Homo sapiens: one gene and its partner. The protein of the gene in region 1 interacts with the protein of each later gene in a pairwise test. Each region holds a gene or a part of one and is shown on either strand. Other genes may lie near its edges.

Evidence for each region.
Region 2: the proteins of GOLM1 (region 1) and HGFAC interact in binary tests that used the Homo sapiens proteins (3 or more experiments, as listed by UniProt).

The regions. Positions count from the first base shown.
Region 1 is NC_000009.12:86,089,284-86,093,143, forward strand, and holds part of GOLM1 (Golgi membrane protein 1), read right to left. Parts: intron 1-3,860.
Region 2 is NC_000004.12:3,444,878-3,447,746, reverse strand, and holds part of HGFAC (hepatocyte growth factor activator serine protease isoform 2 preproprotein), read right to left. Parts: coding exon 2,754-2,869; intron 2,483-2,753; coding exon 2,397-2,482; intron 1,872-2,396; coding exon of another isoform or gene 1,851-1,871; intron 1,706-1,850; coding exon 1,453-1,705; intron 256-1,452; coding exon 116-255; intron 1-115. UniProt on the Homo sapiens protein: Serine protease that hydrolyzes the inactive zymogen hepatocyte growth factor (HGFsc) to an activated disulfide-linked heterodimer, then initiating hepatocyte growth factor receptor signaling pathway.

The DNA of each region.
Region 1 (3,860 bases):
TGAATTTGAATGTTGGCCTGTCTTGCTAGGTTGGGGAAGTTCTCCTGGATAATATCCTGAAGAGTGTTTCCAACTTGGTTCCATTCCCCCCCTCACTTTCAGGTACACCAATCAAACATAGGTTTGGTCTTTTCACATAGTTCCATATTTGTTGGAGGCTTTGTTCATTCCTTTTCATTCTTTTTTTCTCTAATCTTGTCTTCACGCTTTATTTCATTAAGTTGATCTTCGACCTCTGATATCCTTTCTTCCGCTTGACCGATTTGGCTATTGATACTTGCATATGCTTCACGAAGTTCTCGTGCTGTGTTTTTCAGCTCCATCAGGTCATTTATGTTCTTCTCTAAACTGGTTATTCTAGTTAGCAATTCCTCTAAACTTTTTTCAAGGTTCTTAGCTTCCTTGCATTGGGTTAGAACATGCTCCTTTAGCTCGGAGGAGTTTATTACCCACCTTCTGAAGCCTACTTCTGTCAGTTCATCAAACTCATTCTCTGTCCAGTTTTGTTCCCTTGCTGGCGAGGAGGTGTGATCCTTTGGAGGAGAAGAGGCATTCTGGTTTTTGGAATTTTCAGCCTTTTTGTGCAGGTTTTTCCTCATCTTTGTGGATGTATCTACCTTTGGTCTTTGATATTGGTGAACTTCAGATGGGGTTTCTGTGTGGATGTCCTTTTTGTTGATGCTATTCCTTTCTGTTAGTTTCCCTTCTCACTGTCAGGCCCCTCTGCTGCAGGTCTGCTGGAGTTTGCTGGAGGTCCACTCCAGACACTGCCTGGGTATCACCAGTGGAGGCATCAGAAAAGCAAAGATTGCTGCCTGTTCCTTCCTCTGGAAGCTTTGTCGCAGAGGGGCACCCACTAGATGCCAGCCGGAGCTCTCCTGTATGAGGTGAGCTGTCAACCCCTGCTAGGAGGTGTCTTCCAGTCAGGAGGCACAGGGGTCAGGGACCCACTTGAAGAGGCAGTCTGTCCCCTAGCAGACTTTGAGTGTTATGCTGGGAGATCTGCTGCTCTCTTCAGAGCTGGCAGGCAGGAACATTTAAGTCTGCTGAAGCTGTGCCCACAGCTACCCCTTCCCCCAGGTGCTCTGTCCCAGGGAGCTGGGAGTTTTATCTGTAAGACTGGGGCTGCTGCCTTTCTTTCAGAGATGCCCTGCTCAGAGAGGAGGAATCTAGAGAGGCAGTCTGGCCACAGTGGCTTTGCCGAGCTGCAGTGGGCTCTACCCAGTTCGAACTGGCAGCTTTCTTTACACTGTGAGAGGAAAACCACCTACTCCAGCCTCAGCAATGGCGGATGCCCCTCCCCTCTACCAAGCTCGAGCATCCCGGGGCAACTTCAGACTGCTGTGCTGGCAGCAAGAATTTCAAGCCAGTGTTTCTTAGCTTGCTGGGCTCCATTGGGGTGGAATCCAATGAGTTAGACCACTTGGCTCCCTGGCTTCAGCCTCCTTTCCAGGGGAGTGAACAGTTCTGTCTCGCTGGCGTTCCAAGTGCCACTGGGGTACCAAAAAAAAAAAAAAAAAAAAAAAAAAAACTCCTGCAGCTAGCTCAGTGTCTGCCCAAATGGCCGCCCAGTTTTGTGCTTGAAACCCAGGGCCCTGGTGGTGTAGGCACCTGAGGGTATCTCCTGGTCTGTGGGTTGCGAAGAGCATGGGAAAAGCGTAGTATCTGGGCCAGAGTGCACTGTCCCTCATGGCACAGTCCCTCATAGTTTCCCTTGGCTAGGGGAGGAGTTCCCCAACCCCTTGCACTTCCTAGATGAGGCGATGCCCCACCCTGCTTCTGCTCACCCTCTGTGGGCTGCATCCACCGTCTAACCAGTCCCAGTGAGATGAGCCAGGTACCTCAGTTGGAAATGCAGAAATCACCTGTCTTCTGTGTTGATCTCGCTGGGAGCTGCGGACCAGAGCTGTTGCTATTTGGCCATCTTACCAGCCACTCTGTTGTTGTTTTAAATAACCTAATCTTGTCAATCCTTTATTACTTCTCGATTGTTGTTATATTTAGAAGGGCATTTCCTATTCTAAGTTTATAAACAACTTACCCACATTTTTTTCCAATGTACAGTTTCATATTTACATTTAAATTGTTCATCCATTTAAAACTCCTTTTTGATGTAAGGAGTAAGGAAATACAAAGAATGCAGAAGTAAGGAAATACAAAGAATGCAGCTTTTTTTTTTCCTGTAGTGACAAGCCAGTTCTGCCAGGGCCCTCTACTGAATAATCTATTTTTACCTACTGCTTTGAACAACTATCTTTGTTATATACTAAATTTTCTAACAATATACTTTTTCTTAAAGAGATGGAATCTTGTCGCCCAGGCTGGAGTGCAGTGGTACAATCATGGCTCACTGCAGCCTTGAACTCCTGGACCTAAGCAATCCTCACACCTCAGTCTCCGAGTAGGCACATGCTGCCGCACATGGCTTGACAAAATACTTTTAGATGTGACCCTTGCAAGGCCTTTTGTTATTCTAGTAGAGGTAAGTCAGTGGGTGGGGTATATTATAAATTTGAAAGCAGAAAATAAACTCCATTCTCACTTCAAGGGAAGTGTACAGATAACCATTTAATATTCTCTTTTCTTTAAACAGCCAATAAAAAATTTATTGAGCAGCTACCATGAGTCAGGTGCTGTATTCACATCAGGCAGCTCAGGGTGGTATTAAGAGCACAGACTGGAATCCCATTGCCATATCTGAATCCTGGCTCCACCACTCAGGAACCCCACAGACTGGAGCCTCACAGCCATGTCTGACACTGGCTCCACCACTCAGGAACTCCAAGACTGGAACCCCACAACCATGTCTGACCCTTGCTCTACCACTCAGGGGACACAGGACCTGTCTGTGCATCACTGTCCTGCTCACAAGGTTTTTAAGAGGATTCAGTGAGTTGAGTGAGAAGCGCTTAGAGCTACATTTGGCACATAGTAATTGCTCAACAAATGTTGACAACTATTAGGGATGGAAAGATGAACAACAAATCATTTCTAGATTCAATCTTTTTTCCATTTTATGAGGAAACAGTGATGCATGTTTTCCTTCCATAACCATTCTACTTTATAGCAACCAGTCCTCCTCTTTCCTTCTCCTGACTCTGCCACCAACTAAAATAGCAGTACCTGCCATTACCTGGGGCTGACCTACAGTTGCCACTGAGGCCGTGGACATCCCAGACCAGGATCATATTATGAAAAAGGTTTGAGGAAGCCAAGCCTCAAACAGTCCTGGAAGTCATACAATCCTGGAAGCCCCTCACTGTCACCCAGTGCTTGGCTGGCCAGGAAGGTGAGCAGCTGTCTAGACAGCACTCTTAGGAGAGCCCTGGGCTCCCAATGGGAGCAGGGCTGCCCAGGTAAATAGTGACACAAGGAAAGGAAGTAACACAATGAGGCTTCAGGCCTGCAAGGTGCCTCCTCACAGGCTTCCAGGACTGTAGAAACCCTTGCTGCTGAAGGATAAGGGACACACACTGGCGAGAAATGATCAAGACTGATGAAGGCTGGTGGCAGGAACTCACAGGCAGAGTTTATGGTGGTCAAATACATCAGACACTCTCCCTTCTCCCACCTTAGAATTTATTTGGATTGCGGATGAGATGGAAGTGGGTGAGTGATATACTGCATCAAACAGAGGTATTAATTTAATATTCATTTTCATTTAAGCTTCAGAATATGTTTGTCTCATACTTGGTTATAAGCTTCCAACATACTGAAAATGATTAACTTAAATCAGCTAAACTCTGTGAGGCTCCAGGCTTTCCCAAAATTAAAACAAGTGGTGTGTTTTCACATTAAAAATCACTTGATAGGCTGGGTGTACACAGTGGCTCATGTGTATAATCCCAGCACTTTGGGAG
Region 2 (2,869 bases), on another chromosome or scaffold:
GCCCCCAGCTTCCCCCGCACCACATGTCTGCCCAGCTCCTGCCCCTGTCTGGGCCTGGCCTGGGGAGCACAGGGCCCACCTGCCCAGAGTGCAGCCACGACACGCCGGAGCTCACCGAGGTCGTGGTCGCTGGGGTTGAACACCGAGTACAGGGTGTACGGGATGTACTTCTCGATGCCGAAGGTCTGCGTCACGTCCGTCGTGCGGTTGAAGAAGTGCTGGCCCAGCACCACGGAGACGCTGTCCCTGGGGGGGCTGTGCAAGGGGGGCTGGAGGCTGCATGGACCAGCCCTCCCCCAGCCACCGGGCTCACCTCTCCCCACCCCCTGTCAGGCCCACGGAGGCCAATGGTGTGGGACCCTGGTCCCGGGGAGGGGTCTGAGCAGGTGCCTGGGTGTGGGCTGTTGATACTGGGGAGACAGGGACCACCAAGCAGGGGCTATTGCCAGTCACCCCCAGATCCAGGCATGGGAGCTGAAGTGCGGTGCCATCCCTCCTGACAACACTGGTCACAAGCCCTGGGGGGAGTCTCAGGCCAAGCCCAGGCAGGATCGGCTGCAAGGCCGACCCGAGTGGGTGGAGACCTGGCCTGCTCAGGCCCTGCCCCAGCTTCCATCCACATTGTGGGGTCCCCAGATGCAGCCCTCACTCCTGCTGGGCACAGAGCCTGGGCCCCTGAGCCTGGCTCCCATCTGCTGTGTGGAGGTCGCTCCACCCTGCCTCGGCCTCCTGCCCTGGGCTCCATGTGGGGAACCCCATTTCTCCACACTGAGGAAGGCTCTGGCCCCATTTGCAGGCCCAGGAGCCGCCGGCTGCAGGTTCTGCAGGGCCACGCAGGACCCCACCCTGGGAGCTGTGGTCCTCGAAAGGCCGCCAGACCCTCGGCTGGCCGGACCCCTGCCCCTAATCACTGGGGTGCCCATCGAAGGTGGAAGGGCGTCTGGCCCAGGCTGCTCCGTCTCAGGGTCTCCCCACTCGAGGCCCGCCTCCCAGAGTGTGGGCCTGGGTGGCTGTGCGCCCCCACTGAGGGGAGCCGGCTGAGTGGGCTGGGCCTCAGTTTCCCTGGCTGTGCTTGGGCTCCTAGGGCTCTGACGCATTGTCACTGCGCTCCCTGGCTCCCTACTGAGAGCCAGGACTCTGGGAGGGGCGGGGCCTGCGGGGAGGACAGGACCTGGCCCACTGCACTCTCCGCAGGCGCTGGGTCCTCTGTGGAAATGCCACTGACCCCTGGCCTCCCTCAATAGGGACAGGGTTTCTGGAGTGTCCATGCATGCCCAGCTCAGGACTGAGCCCCAAGACCCAGAGGGGTCAGAGAGGGTTACCGGGGACCCCGGGAAGGGGTCAGCAGAGGCACCGGGATGGGGTCCGCAAGCGGGTGGGGACAGGCGCATAGTGACGCTGGATGGTGTGTGGGGCCTCAGGGCAGGTGACTGGGGCCCAGAGGAGGTGCACCTGTGGGAGAAGCAGTGGGCGGCCGACACCACCCAGCAGGTGTGGACCAGGCTCCCGGCGCAGAAGCTGTCCCCGATGTAGATGGCGGCCAGCCAGGGGTGCGAGCCGGGCAGCGAGGAGGAGCCGCCGATGATACGTGGCCGCAGGAACGTCCTCTTCTTGTGCCTCCTGCCGCAGGCCTGGCGCCCCGGGGAGGCTGGCTCAGGCAGGGTCGCCAGGAGATCCGGTGACAGTTGGACTCTGGTGAGGGATTCTGGGAGCAAAGGTCACCGGGTCACACCCCTGGGGTTCACAGGGCCAGCCCCCTTCCACACACAGGCCCTACCCGGCAGGAGGCGCTGCAGAGGGCCATGGCCGGACCCCCTGTCCACGCTGCTCAGGCCCTGGCGCCCACTCACCTCTGCCCTCAGTTTCCAAATCTGTAGAATGGGGTTTGATGCCCGATCCCGAGGCTCTGTGAGGGCCAGAGGGGCTGGACACACGGAGGCCTTTGTGGCCCCCTCAGCAGCCCGGAACCCCACAGCCAGCCCCAGCACAGTCAGAGACCCCCACATGAGAGCCCCGGGCTGGCCCCGCCGGGGTCCTAGGGAGCCGGGGGGCCTCTCCCCAGGGCAGGAAGCAGGTGGCCTCTGGGGGGCCTGCACGCTGCCCTCCCTGCACCTCCCTGAAAGGCTTCTGCGGCCATCCTGGGCATGGTCCAGGCTGGGCAGGTGCCACCCCGAGGCCGTCGCCTGGTGACCAGCCCCCTGCAGCGGGCTGCTTCCCCACTGTGACCCCAGTACCGACCCACTGCGTGACCTTGGACCAGCCTGATCCCGTGAGCTCCAGTTTCCCCATTTGTCAGAGATGCAGTAGCCAGGTGTGCGGAGGGGCTAGGAGGATCACGGGGAAAACTGCTGTGACCTCGGTGGGGCCCAAGGCAGCACCCCCCGCCAGCCGCGCACCGCAGGCCTCCAGGCGGCAGTACTCCCAGGAGAGCGCGCTGTCCTTCACCACGTAGCACCAGGGCCTCTCGTCATTGTCCGGATTCCTGCGGTGCATAAGTGGGGGCTGGCAGGGAGTCACACTGCCCCTCGAAGAGGGCATGGGGAGGGGGCATCGGAACCCCCAGCAGGGCGGTTCCCCGCACCTGGAGCAGTGGGAAGAGAGTGGCCCTCCCTCGGGCAGCCTCCCAGGCAGAGGTTCCGGGGCCTGTCTGGACGGAGCTGGCCCCGCCTGGGTCCTAGGGAGCCGGGGGGCCTCTCCCCAGGACAAATCCTGCCTGCCCCGCATGCGGCGGCCTGGAGCGGCGTGGTGCTGACCGGCAGTAGGCATGGGGGCCCAGGCCCAGCAGGGCCGCGGCGCCCACGGAGTCCACGTGCAGCTCCTGGTAGAGCAGATCGGAGTTCCAGGCCAGGCAGCTGAGGCCCGAGGCTGA